4 linked regions of the Homo sapiens genome follow. The protein of the gene in region 2 purifies or fractionates together with the protein of the main gene of each other region. This does not show direct contact. Each region holds a gene or a part of one and is shown on either strand. Other genes may lie near its edges.

Evidence for each region.
Region 1: the proteins of IFI44L (region 2) and RAB3GAP1 purify together in Homo sapiens (affinity purification with mass spectrometry, with the first as the bait; one large-scale study listed by BioGRID). This does not show direct contact.
Region 3: the proteins of IFI44L (region 2) and MDH1 purify together in Homo sapiens (affinity purification with mass spectrometry, with the first as the bait; one large-scale study listed by BioGRID). This does not show direct contact.
Region 4: the proteins of IFI44L (region 2) and LHX2 purify together in Homo sapiens (affinity purification with mass spectrometry, with the first as the bait; one large-scale study listed by BioGRID). This does not show direct contact.

The regions. Positions count from the first base shown.
Region 1 is NC_000002.12:135,135,792-135,139,291, reverse strand, and holds part of RAB3GAP1 (rab3 GTPase-activating protein catalytic subunit), read right to left. Parts: coding exon 3,360-3,500; intron 2,665-3,359; exon of another isoform or gene 2,537-2,664; intron 1-2,536. UniProt on the Homo sapiens protein: Catalytic subunit of the Rab3 GTPase-activating (Rab3GAP) complex composed of RAB3GAP1 and RAB3GAP2, which has GTPase-activating protein (GAP) activity towards various Rab3 subfamily members (RAB3A, RAB3B, RAB3C and RAB3D), RAB5A and RAB43, and guanine nucleotide exchange factor (GEF) activity towards RAB18.
Region 2 is NC_000001.11:78,640,948-78,644,447, reverse strand, and holds part of IFI44L (interferon-induced protein 44-like), read right to left. Parts: intron 3,428-3,500; coding exon 3,327-3,427; intron 3,014-3,326; coding exon 2,839-3,013; intron 2,674-2,838; coding exon 2,639-2,673; 3' UTR 1-2,638.
Region 3 is NC_000002.12:63,602,463-63,605,962, reverse strand, and holds part of MDH1 (malate dehydrogenase, cytoplasmic), read right to left. Parts: intron 1,268-3,500; coding exon 1,091-1,267; intron 684-1,090; coding exon 570-683; intron 25-569; coding exon 1-24. UniProt on the Homo sapiens protein: Catalyzes the reduction of aromatic alpha-keto acids in the presence of NADH. Plays essential roles in the malate-aspartate shuttle and the tricarboxylic acid cycle, important in mitochondrial NADH supply for oxidative phosphorylation.
Region 4 is NC_000009.12:124,018,268-124,021,767, reverse strand, and holds part of LHX2 (LIM/homeobox protein Lhx2), read right to left. Parts: intron 670-3,500; coding exon 464-669; intron 1-463. UniProt on the Homo sapiens protein: Acts as a transcriptional activator. Stimulates the promoter of the alpha-glycoprotein gene. Transcriptional regulatory protein involved in the control of cell differentiation in developing lymphoid and neural cell types.

The DNA.
Region 1 (3,500 bases), on a different chromosome or scaffold from region 2:
TGGGATTACAGGCATGAGCTACCATGCCCAGCCAAGATCTGTACACTTTATTGTATTAAGTTATAACTCAATAATTAAGTAAATACATGAACATATGTTTTTAAAATGACTAGCAGAAAACATATACAATATATATAACTGTAGATTCACATCTAAAATATGAAGAATTCATATGAATCAATAAGAACAGGGGAGCAACCTAAAAGAAAAATCATAGGCGATTCACAGGAAAGGACGGCTAACGAACATATTAAAAGATGCTCAGGTTCATGAAAATTCAGAAAAATACAATCTAAAACACTGAGATACTACTTTTGACCATCATGTTAACAAAAATTTATATGGTTGGTAATACCAATTGTTTATAAGAAATTGAGGCTGGGCACAGTGGCTCATGCCTATAATCCCAGCACTTTGGGAGGCCGAAACAGAGGATTGCTTGAGGTCAGGAGTTTAGGACCAGCTTGGGCAACATAGCAAGACTCCATCTTTACAAAAATTTTAAAAGTGAAAAAATCAGCCTGGCATGGTGGTGAGCACTTGTAGTCCCAGCTACCTAGGAGGCTAAGGTCAGAGGATCACTTGAGCCCAGCAAGTCAAGGCTGCAGTGAGCCATGATCATGCCACTGCATTCCAGCCTATGCAACAGAATGAGATCCTGTCTCCAAAAAAAAAAAAAAATCCATAAAACCATGTATTAATATGTACACACATATATGTATTATACATCAATGCAGAGAAACAGTTATAAGAAATATAACCCAAACCAATAATACTTGTTAGTTACTTCAAGGAATGCAAGTCAAAATTAGTGGATGGTGGCTTTCACTTTTTATTTTTTTGAGACAGGGTCTTGCTCTGTTGCCCAGGCTGGAGAACAGTGACACAATCATAGCTCACTGCAGCCTTAACCTCCCGGGCTCAATTGATTCTTCTACCTCAGCCTCCCGAGTAGCTGGGACTACAGGTGTACGCTACCCCAGTCGGCTAATTTTTTTTTTTTTTTTTTTGGTAGAAATAGGGTTTACCATGTTGCCCAGGCTGGTCTTGAATTCCTGGGCTCAAGCAATCCAACCCCACCTCGGCCTCCCAAAGTGTTGGGATTACAGGCGTTGAGCCTCTTTCATTTTTACTAGATTACAATTTTCACAATAGAATGTTTTCAGGCCGGGTGCAGTGGATCATGTCTGTAATCCTAGCACTTTGGGAGGCTGAGGCAGGCAGATGGCTTGAGTTCAGGAATTTAAGACAAGCCTGGACAACAGGGCAAAACCCCACCTCTATAAAAACCACGAAAAATTAGCCAGGCATGGTGGCATGCACCTGTAGTTCCAGCTACTTGAGAAGCTGCGGTGGGAGGATCACTTGATCCCAGGAGGTCAAGGCTGCAGTAAGCTACAGTCATGCCACTGCACTCCCACCTGGGTGACAAAGAGAGACTCTGTGTCAAAAAAAAAACAACAAAAAAAAAACAAAACAAAACCCTTAAAAACAACTATTGCTGCTGTTGTTGTTGAGTTATTGCTGTTCTACATCCTAATGGTGTATATGACTTCAAACTATTTTTGAACAGATAAAAGCTAATCATATAATTGAAGGATATTTACTTTTGTTCTCTCTATATATTTTTGGATTTTTTCTTTTTCTTTAAGTCAATAAATTTTTGTTCAAGTAATTCCATGTTGTGATTTCTTCCACTGTCCATCAAGGTCACTTCAGATCCTCTAAAGAGCTGGAGTCAAAAGATTTATCTTCAAGTTAGCCCTTTTTAATGAAACTGATGCTTATTTTAATCCAGCTGTCCTGTTAGCCCATAATTCTTTTATTTTGGCTTCTGTCATCTCCTTTTAATATGGATATACTGATGAAGACTTCAAAATTCACCAAGAATCTTTGGGATCTAACTTCTTCAACCAATTTACTTTAGGGTCCTTTTTACTGTAGGTGGTGGATCTGCCTGGTTCTCAATTTGACACCCTAAGCGATCATACTCAAGAATAGTACAGATGTGTGGAATACGCCAATACCTTTAACTACAGACATCATGTTCTCAAGATAAAAGCCTTTAAAACAAAAAGCCATCGTAGGTATCAAGTCAACATGAAATTGGAATGCAAAATTAATACTGCTGAGGATTTCCTTCATATCCCATGCTGTTTAACTATCTCTTCCACAGTCCTAGAATCAATCTTTTTTAATTAAGAGACAGGGTCTGTCTTTGTTACCCAGGCTGGAGTACAGTGGTGTCATCAAAGCTCAGTGCAGCCTCCAACTCCTGGGCTCAATACTCTTGCCTCAGCCTCCTCTTCCTGAGTAGCTGCAACTACAGACACATGCCCCAATACTCAGCTAATTTTTAAATTTTTGTGGAGATGAGGTGTTTGTTACTTTCTTATACAGGCTGGTCTTGAACTCCTGGCTTCAAGCAATACTCCCACCTTGGTGTGGGGCTTGCAGGCTTGAGCCATTGTGCCTGGTCTGGGACCAACCTTTATGGCTATCAATATTCCCATCAGTTAACTGTCTCAGGTATCATAATATCCCTTCTTATATGTATCAAAACTCATACTGAACAATGAGTTCTGGGTTGCAAAAGAGGATTTATTTTTTGCACCTATCCATAAGTCTTTGTCCACAAGTTAAACAAAAACATACATAAGTGCAGTTGGATTTTCTTTTTTAAACATCTGAGCATTCACTGCTCAGTTTATAAATCACCTTATATATGATGACGTGATCTACTTAAACTTCAAAACATTTCTCAATTACAGAAATGGCAAACCTAAAAGCCCCAAAAGTTTATTTAGATTTCTTTAATCTTTAAACATAGACTTTGTCCAATCTTTTAAAGGTCCTTGATTAAATCAAGACCACATTTATCTATGTCATTGGGAAATCCTTACCTTTAGTTTCTTTAAACAGTCTATATCTTTATCTTTAAACATAAACACTTTTTTTTTCTTTTGAGACAAGAGTCTTGCTCTGTTGCCCAGGCTGGAGTGCAGTGGTGCAATCTCGGCTCACTGCAACCTCCCACTGCTGGGTTCAAATGATTCTCCTGCCTCAGCCTCCCCAGTAGCTGGAACTACAGGTGTGCGCCACTGTGCCCAGCTAATTTTTGTACTTTTAGTAGAGACAGGGTTTCACCATGTTGGCCAGACTTATCTTGAACTCCTGACCTCAGGTGATCTGCCCACCTCAGCCTCCCAAAGTGCTGGGATTACAGGCGTAAGCCACCGCATCTGGCCTAAACATAGACTTTTTGGATAATTTTCCTTACTCAAAGCACTATCTTCTACTAGGATGAAGTTATATAAACCACAAAATAAATTAAAATGGAAAGAACTAGTGCATCCTACCTGGGTTACTGGAATGTAGAGAGGTTCTCCATTATGCAGCAGTGTAAGTTTCCCATGCTGATAGAGCCGTCCTTCCGGCCTTAAATTTGCCATCTCCTTAGGTCCTCCTTTCTTGCCACTCTCTTGTCCATTTCCTTTAAG
Region 2 (3,500 bases):
AGAGCCAGAGAATAAGAAGTTGTGGTATCATTTTGCCAATACTGTCCATTTTAGCACAAAAGGGATAACTTAGTGTCAACATTTATGCTCCTAAAGGATGTTGGGTCAAATGAAATGTTCCTCATTGTTTCTCTCTCTTGATCTCTCCTTCACTCCTTCTCTTCCTTGCAGGATCTCCAACTCCTTCATAAGGGCACTCTGTGTTACCCCTTTAAACAAAATAAAGAAGTCCTACATTCTGCCCAGATTTTTTTCAGGCTCCACCAAAGGGTTGGGTGAATTATGGCCCAAAAGTTGGTGAGGATGATGGTGAACCTTCAATCACCTTCAGTCTCCCAACCAACAATGGTCATGGCTTGTTTTCTCCCTGGATTACATGGAGAAAATCATGCCCTACTTTTTGGACCTGTTGCTTCTACATTTGTATGGTAACTGTGAAACCATCCTAATGAACAGCAAACATTAACCACTACATAAAATGTAGACTTTGAATAAAAACACAGCTAAGTACTAACCAACTTGCCCTTTAAGCCAATTCCCTGTAGCTACTTACAGCATGACTGTTAGCTCCTTTCCTTATAGTTTCTTACTGCCTAAAAGTCACATAGATGTGGTCACAAGGCACTAACTTCCCTTAGTTATTTCTATAAGATAATATATGTAACGTTAAGAAACATCAAGTTTCTATCTAAAAAGTTTTCCAGATCTTGGAATCCCATGGGTCTGCTGACACCAGTCAGTCTGAAGACCCCCTCCAAGGAATTGACTCAGCAAAAAAACAAAAAAAAAAAAAAACAACAACAAAAAAAAAACAAAACAAACAAAAAAAAACTTCCAGTTTTCATCTCTGTATGTTTCATTTCATTCCCTATACCCCAACAAATCAGCAGCTCCAGACCTTCAGCACCTTACCTGCCTTTCTCTTAAAAATCCTAAACTTAGACTCAGCAGGGAGGTAGATTTGAGGTTTCCTCAACCTTCCTCATTTTTCTGCCATTCAATTATTAAACTCTTTCTCTACTGCAATACCTGCTGTTTTGGTATATTGGTGTGTTACTGTGCAATAAGAACAACTCTGGTGAGCCTAAAATAACTTTTTCTGGTTGCCTCTCTAATTTTGTTCCCAATATCTACTTGTAGGCCTACCTCCTCAATTTCCATGGTTCTCCTATTCCTAGGTCTTTTTTAAAGACTTAATTTCTTCCACTGAATTGTGTCTCCTGAACATTCACTTGAGCACAACTTCACCTGCAGCCTTGCTTTAGGAAATATTCCATAACTGGACATAAGAAACTCTTGCTTTCTTAATATCTATGACTACCCAAAAGATGAGTATAATTCTGATTAAAACTAAATTAGACTGTCAGAATGTGGATAACTATTGAACCAAAGCATATTATTTTGAAGAAGACTAAGAATTTGGAGAAGAGAATTAGGAAGTCTTTAAGGAAAAAAAAAAGTGAAAGCTATCTTTTGGGAATTTTGTTTTCTTTCTTAATAGTACTAGCTTTCACAGCTAGTAAGAGGACTTCAGAATTATTTGGAGCATAAATATAAGAACTTTCTTACTGATTTGCCCCAGTAACCTAAATGGAAGGACACATGGCTAGGATGATTTGGAATTCAATTAATGAAAATCAAGCATGGGTTTGTTAGAAGAGGAATATTTATTTTTTCCCATAGAAATAAAATGTAAATTGTTAAAAAAAAGTTGGCTCATTTTAATTAATTCAATTACTTAGAGTCATTCATATTTTCATTCAGATATAAATGAAACACTCTTCCTTCTTTATTTTTATTTCCTCTCCCCAGCTTTTCATTCTCTTTCAGTCTTCCTTTCTGTTTTTCGTTTGTTTGTTTTGTTTTATTTGGTTTTTTTGAGCCAGGATCTCACTCTTTCTCCCTGGCTAGAGTACAGTGGCACAATCTCAGCTCACTGTAGCCTCCACCTCCAAGGCTCAATCAATCATCCTGAGTAACTGGGACTACAGGCACGTGCCATCATACCCAGCTAATTTTTGTGGGGTTTGTTTTGTTCTTTCTTATTTTTTTTTTTTTTTTTTGCAGTGGAGATGGGGTTTCATCATGTTGCCCAGGCTAGTTTTCCTTTCTATATACAGAAAAATTTAAAGTGAATGTGATGTTGGAGAGAGTGGGAAGGAAAAGTAATGGCAAGTATGCTTGCTCATTACCAGGCACTGTGCTAAGCTCTGTGAATACACAGATAAGTAAAATCCACGCTGTTTCTCAAAGAACTCACAATCTGTTTAAGAAGCAGATGTCTATACAATAATTTTATAACTATTATTCAATGTGATTAGTACTCACATAGCTCTATATAGAGTGTTATAGAAGAATAAATTAGAGAATATCTCATTTTTCCTCCAGTGGTTTAAAAAGATGTCACAGAAACTGAATTGTAAATGGTACGGAAATATGGAGGGGTGGTTTGCAGTAGGACCTATCTTAGCCCACCGCTTCTCAGGTTTTGGCCTTTGAACTTGAGATATGACTGTTCCAAGGACAGAAGGCAAAACGAACAAAAGCAAAATCTGAAGCAGGCTGTCAATAGAGATTGACTCTCATTGCGGCACACCAGTACAGGCTGGGCCAAATGTCAGAATCAAGGCAACTTATCTCAAATGCAGGGCTGTAACGCTCTCTCAATTGCACCTGAAAATGAAACAAACAAGAGTGGAAATGAAACATATATCCTAATGTAGCTTTCAGGACTAGGGCATGCAGGTGGGCCCCAGTCATCTAATAACTGATGTATAACTTAGGATTTTTCAAAAGGCACCAGTGATCTATGACAGGGGGAGAAAAGGGCCAGATTACCAGTTTCCTCAAGAGGCAAATCTTCTAAAAAATCATCTGCAGCCCGCAGCATCTGCCTCAGTGCAGAGAGGATGAGAATATCCTTCATGGGGTCCAGTTCCAAATCTGAAGCATAATTTCCAACCATCAAAATATTGGAAATAGGAATGCCTAGCATTTTATGGACATTCATGACCTGTGGAAAGTATATTTAAAAAGTGTAAGTCCTGTATTTAATATTTGAAATTTGACCAATTTTAAATACAATTTAAGAAAGAAACCAAAAAAGCAATGGCTTAATAAGTTATCTTCGGAACATACAATAATTCAGATCATTGCAGTTTTAAAGTGTGATATAAATTTGAATTAATCAAGCAATTGATCCCATTCTTCATTTCCCTGCAAATACACTCTGTAAGCACATATACACGTACAGACACACACAAACACACACACGTATGATTGTGATACTATTACAATAATATCTGGTTATGATCAGCATTTTTTACCCGGCTTTGAGAAGTCATAGATCTACTCATGTTTAAAAAGTTGTCTTGAAGAACCTCACTGCAATCATCCACTTTAGTAAGCAAGGCCACATATGCTATACCTATATCAAATAGATAAATCAGTTATTTTATATCATAAATAGCAATGTGTCAACAAGTTATTAAATATGTGTG
Region 3 (3,500 bases), on a different chromosome or scaffold from region 2:
AACACCCATGGACACAAACTCTCCCTGAAAATAACAATGTTTCACATACTCATGATGATTAGTTTACACAACTGACACATGAACTAATAAAATTAAACCAGGTGACCCTTTCTTACTATGTTCATAACATCATTACTGTGTAAGGAACTATCATCAGCACCAGGTACTGGTGACAAGGTAACTTTCATGGATATTATTTCATTCCACGCTTCCATATCATATGTGAAGTAGGCCAGGGAAACCTAATCCTCATTTTACAGATGAGGAAGCTGTGGCATAGAAGAAAAAAATTCACCCCTACTATGTATCAGGCATTGTGCCAGGTGTTTTCCATGTGCAATCTCCTTTAACCCTCACAACCCTGTGTATAATAGTAATGTCATGTAAAAGATGACAAAACAGCTCAGAAAGGTCAAGGCTAACAAACCCCGAAGTTTACTTGTTAATAGGCAGCTGAGCTGAGAAATGAACCTAACCTGACTGACTGCTAAGGCTATATTCTTTTTATATTATATCATCAGGCAACAAAAATAAAATAGAGTGACCTGTGCAAATCACTAAATCCTTACCTCTGGGGTTCCAAACCAGATGTCCCTGACGTGGTCACAGATGGCTTTTGCAGCAGACATGGCACTGGATAGTTTTCGAGCCTTGATGACAGCAGCGCCACGCTGCTGCACAGTCTGGGAAGGGGGCAGGTGAAGGCAGCAGTATTACTTGGTCATGATAGCAAAGTTTTCATTAATTCCAAGTCGACCTTGGGGTGAAAAGCTATGACCAGAGCTTAATGTTTCCCCTCCAAAATCATGCAACAACCCAATGTCAGCCTTACCAATCCTTCTGGAAAAAGGAAACTATGTATCTCCATACAAAGTTTATCATAGGTCAGACAAAGACATGGATCTTGGTATAAATCTCAACTGCTGTCACATCAGATCACACTAGATCATGACTGGCTTACTATGATCCCGAAAGTATGCAGTCATCAGAGCAACTGTGAAAGACCTGCCCTCTTTAAGGTTTTCTGTCCTAAGAGTCTCTCAAGAGTTCTTTACGCTCAGTGTTAAGAAGGCTCACAGATTTTTCTTACCGTGACAAATTCTCCCTTGAGCCAGCTGTCATCTTTCAGAGCTTCATAAACACCAACTTCCTTTCCTTGCAATTTCACCTTGGCATGGTTGACATCTGGATACTGAGTCGAGGAATGGTTTCCCCAGATAATGACATTCTTTACATCATTAGCAGTCACACCAAGTTTAAGAGCAATCTAGTTAAATTGAAAACAAATACATTACTGAGACAAATGGTTTTTATTTCCAATTGGGACCTGTTTTGACAAATGCCCTTAAATAAAGATAAAAAGCTTCTGAAATTTCAAGAGAACACAAGAGTTATATTGACTTGTAAAAAATGTAAATTTATTGCTTGGCAATTTCCTACAACAGCTTAACAGTGGTAACAACTGTGGACTTGAAACCTTATGGAGTAGAATGTTTAAGGGTATGAAGCATCCCATAGTTTGTGGTTAACTTATTAGTACAGTAGGTGTATCAAACATAAAACATTAATCGTTACTATTATTTATCAATTTACTATTTCTTGAATATGTAAATGTGATCTTTTGTTTCACTGTTAATGTTTACTTGGAGATGTCTTCTCAGTGCTTCTGAGTAATCAGGTATTTAGGCACTTTATATTTAGGTAAAATTTTTATTATATACCATATAGAAATTAATTTTCAAATAACCCTAAATATGAAATTTTAGAGTTGGATAGGACTCAAATTACCAAGATATGACTGTCCTCATTTTATATATCAGGAAACTGAAGGAAAGAGGTTTTATATATGTGTATGTGTGTGTGTGTACACACATATATACACTCTAAAATTATAACATATGTAACAATCTCTAGCTATAACTCCAGAAAGCACTTTAGGGTCCTGCAATGCCTTGCAATCACATGTAGTACAGTAGCCACAAAAAAGGTTAGAAAGTTATGTCTTGGGCTGGGCATGGTGGCTTACGCCTGTAATCCCAGCACTTTGGGAGGCCAAGGCGGGCAGATCACCTGAGGTTGACAGTTCGAGACCAGCCTGACCAACATGGAGAAACCCTGTCTCTACTAAAAATACAAAGTTAGCCGGGCTTGGTGGCACATGTCTGTAATCCCAGCTACTTGGGAGGCTGAGGCAGGAGAATCGCTTGAACCTGGGAGGCGGAGGTTGCGGTGAGCCAAGATCGCACCACTGCACTCCAGCATGGGCGATGCAGCGAGACTGTCTCAAAAAAAAAAAAAAAAAAAAAAGAAATGTCTTGGTAGATTTAAATAAAATCAGCCTGCTTGTTATTTGTCTGATAAGTTTATGTGCAGAAAATAAATTATGATCAGGTATATGTATAATTTGTTCCTAACTAGACAACAGAATTTATGATGAACCAGAAGGGAATGTGGAAAAATATTTTAAGAAGCTGATCTGTTTTGGTGACATTGTGGGCAATTCTTCCTTCCTCTGTGTCCCAAAAAGAATGGGAGAAGAAACTAGTTGTGCCAGAGTCTGTAGCTTTAGCACACATAAATAAAGCATTTGAGTATTTACCATGTAAGAAAAGGAATACACTTTGATATTTTAAGGAAAATTTTAAAATAAGGGTAATAACAGCTCCAAACTGAAACAACTCAAATGTCGTTCAAGAATGGTTAAATATGCCAGGCGCGGTGGCTCACACCTATAATCCCAGCACTTTGGGAGGCCGAGGTGGGAGGATCAGGAGGTCGAGATGGAGACCATCATGGCCAACACGGTGAAGCCCCGTCTCTACTAAAAATACAAAAATTAGCTGGGTGTGGCAGCGTGTGCCTGTAATCCCAGCTACTCAGGAGGCTGAGGCAGGAGAATCTCTTGAACCTGGGAGGCGGAGGTTGCAGTGAGCCGAGATCGTGCCATTGCACTCCAGCCTAGGCGACAGGGCGAGACTCTGTCTCAAAAAAAAAAAAAAAAAAAAAAAAAAAAAAAAAAAAAAAAAAAGAACGGTTAAATAAACTGTATTATGTCTTACATAGGCAATGGAATAAATAAAAGGGGTAAGTGGAAAAACAACAAAAAGAAACAAACAACAACCTGGATGGATCTTAAAGGCATTAAACTGAGTGAAAAAGAGCCAGTCTCAAAAGGTTCCTTACTGCATGATTCCACTTTTGTAAATTCTCAAAATGACAAAATTATAGAGGTGGAGTGCAGAAAAATGATGTCAGGGACAGAGGGTGGTGTGACCATAAGGGAGAGTATGAAGGAGTTCTTTTGTGAGTGATGAAGAAATTCTGTACCTTGACTATGGGGGCAGTTACAGGAATCTACACTTGTAATTAAATGTCATAGAATCATTCATAAAGACACAGAAAAAAATAAGTGAATATAAAACTGGTGAAACTTCAGTAAGTCTAGTTAATAGTATTGTGTAGTTCATCAACTTCCTGGTTTTGATAATACTCTGTAGTTA
Region 4 (3,500 bases), on a different chromosome or scaffold from region 2:
GAAACTAGAGTGGGTAAGAAGCAAGAAGCAGGAGCTAATGATAGTCACCTTGGGTGTACGTCCTGGGATGGGGTGGGGCGGCCTCTAGATTTATCTGAAATGTTTGAACCTTTTATGATGTGAATGTGTGTAAAATGAGTGTCACTTGAATAATAAACAGAAACTAAGAATTGTTTAGAAGAAAGAAAAGAGACCGAGTGTGGAGACAATGAGGATGGAGCGATACGCAAACAGAAAAACAGAGAGGCAAAAACTGAAAAAGAGAAAAGACAAAGTAAGAAAAAAAAGACTGAAATACAGATGGGGACAGGCTGGAGAGGTGAAGAAAGAGAATGAGAAAGATTAAACACACAGAGAAGCAGACACAGGGTGGAAGGTCCTTCCAAGGCCCACGGCGAGGGGTGCAGGGTTCCACCCCAGTCCCTGGTGGTCGCAGATGCCCTCACCCCTGGCCCTGGCTGACCTGGAGGACCCGCTTGGTGAGGCCCGTCTTTTGCGCGAGCTGCTTCAAGTCCTTGGCGTCGGGGTTGTGGTTAATGGCAAAGTAAGACTTCATGGTCCGAAGCTGGTGGTGCTTGAAGGACGTGCGCATGCGCTTGGTCTTCTGGCTGCTCGGGTATGGCTGGTCACGGTCCAGGTGCTCTGCGTCGTTTTCGTTGCAGCTTAGCGCTAGGGAGGAGACACAGAGCCGGTGGGTGAACTTCCTGACCCGCCCCCCATGCCAAATCCACACTCGCCCCACCCACTGCCAAACATTTCAATCCTTAACCCTGCTGCATGTCTGCGCCACAATGAAAGGGGGACATCATCCCCATTTTATAGATGGAAACACTGAGGCTCAGAGACAGCGATCCACCCAGGATCACACTGCTAAGAACTGCAGCACTGAATCCCGGCTCTGGGAGAATCCAAAAATCATTCTGAGCCATTATGTTACAATAAGAACAATAGTAGCAGCAGCAGCAGCAGCAGCAACAACAGCTACGACTTGTTGATGGCCGATTGAACTCCAGGTGATGTGTTAAAGGGCTTTCCAGGCACATTTTCTTTAGGTACTTAAAACAATCCTAGGAGCACCAGGTATTATTTTTCCCGTTTTTACAGATGTTGAAACTGAGGCTCAGCAAGGGAAGTCACTTGACTTTGGACACAGCAGGACAGGGTCTCTGGGCCTGCCCTCCTCCTGTTTTCCAAGGCACTCTAAGGAGGAGTGCTTTCTGCCGTCTCCCCCTACCGTGTCTGGGACCGGCACCTAGAAACTGCTGAAACAGAGATTCATGTTCATTTTGCCACACCCAAAAGTACTGAGGGACCCCTGGGCCTTGGGCACTGGGCCAAAGGTTGGAAACTGCATTTTGCAGTTTAATCCTCATCGCTACCCTGTAAGATGATTGTTTCTCCGTGAACAAGTGGAGCAAATTAGGCTCGGGGAAGTTCAGAGATCTGCGGCAGTCCACAGAGAGCGGCAGAGTGGACGGGGAAGGAAGTCCGAGGCAGAAATAAACATGTAGTAGACACCTATGGTGTGTGTTTGGCTTTACAAATGTCACTGTACATCATTACCTCTCAGAGAGGTGGCTATGACTATTCCCATTTTAGAGATGTGGAAACTAACGCTAAGGGAAATGAAGCCACTTGCACACTGCCACACCACCGGTAACCAGCTAGATTGATCTTGATCTGTTGAGCCTAGATTTAGCACTGGAGTACTCCTTGTTTTCTTCCACTACACCACGAAGGGAGGAGGGAGCCTGTCCCTAACCACAAGGAGCCTCATGGGGGCCACGCTGCCAATGCCTGGCTGGCATTGGGGGTGGGGAATATGGGTGAAAACCTGGGCCTCAGAAAATTGCTCAGCCACCTGGAAGCTGATGGGGACCTGCAGGACCCCTCCCAAGGTCGCCTCCTCATGGCACCTCCCGAGCCATGCCACACTTAAGGTCTTGCCTTGGGGTAAGCCTCATAAGGGGTGTACATTCGGTCCGCCTAAAGTGAGAACTGAGAAGGTATCTTGTGCCCTCATCACATACCCGTAACAGAGCTCTAGATTTAGCAAATGAAAATACAGGTTGCCCAGTTAAATATAAATTTCAGAAAAATAATAAGTAATTTTTTAGTATAAGCATGTCCTAAATATTGCATGGGACATACCTATACTAAAAATGTATTTGTTGTTTACCTGAAATTCAAATACTACAGGTGACACAGCTATGCTAAAAAATTGTCATTTATCTAAAATTCAAATATTACACGGGACACTTATACTACAAATTTCAAATTTATTCGTTATTTTTCCAAAATGCAAATATTGCCGGGGACACTTACACTAAAAATGTATTTGTTACGTACCCAAAATTCCAATTTAACTGGGGATGCTGCATTTTGCCTGGCCACACTACCTCCAAAGGACTTTTACTCTGCTGGTGACCTCCCCCTTCCCCTGCCCAGATGGGGAAGAGCCCCTTGCAGAGAGAATTTGCAAGATACAAGTCTTGCCCCTGCCTTTGGAGCTGTTAGCTAGGGGCTACACCTCCTAGGGGCCTCTTTCCACCGGCACTCAGGTCCCCTCACCCCCGGGGCTGCATTCCCACAGAGAGCACGCCCAGAGTGAAGAGCGCGGGTCCGGCAATTTAAAGGGGATCAGAGGATGCCTCTGAACCTGATCCACCAGAACTGCTTGGAACCCGCTGAGGTGAGCAACCCTTTTCTTTCCCCCAGTCCCCAGCTCCACTGGGGGTGGGGCAGCCTCCCTACGGGGTATCTTTGGGCCCATCCCTCCACCGAGCCCCCGCCTGGGCCTGGCTGCTGTTAATGAGCTCCGTGGGGACCCCGGCGCCCCCATGGGCCCAAGGGACCTGCCCTGAGTGCCGCCTAGGTGGGGTAGTAGTGCGGGGGAGGGGGACAGAAAGGGCAGAGAAAGGAGAGAAAAAGACAAACACAGAAAGGCAGAATGGAGGGAGAGAAAGAGAGAGGGGGTAGGGACGGAAGATGGACAGAGCCAGGAAAAAGAGAGGACAGACAGAGGAAAAGAAAGCGAAGGAGCCAGGAGAACCACAGAGAGACAGCTACAAAGACAGCAAGAAATAGGGAGAGCGGAGGGGAAAGCGAGTCCCGGAAACAGGCGCAGCTTGTGGCGAGGGTCCGGTGGCCGAGCTGAATCCCGGGGCTCCGGGAGACCCGGTCCCTGCGGGGGAGGCCTTTTCCGAAGCCGTTATTGGCGGGGGAGTAGAGAAAAGGGGAAAGAAGGGGAGTGGAGAAAAAGGGAAAGGAGCCGGCCCTAAGTAGCGAGGCCGAGGCCGGCCAGAGGCAAGGGCAGGGGGCGGCGGCGGGGGAGGCAGCCGTGGGGCCCAGGTTTGGCCGGCGCCCCGAACCCCCTCACTCCCGCCCCCAGTGCCCGGGGGCGGGTCGAGATTCCCCAGGATCGGATCCGGGGAGGAGCGAGGGGCCGAGGGGAGGGGGAGGACCCGGGCTTTCTCTCTCCTTTTTTTTTTTTTTCCTCT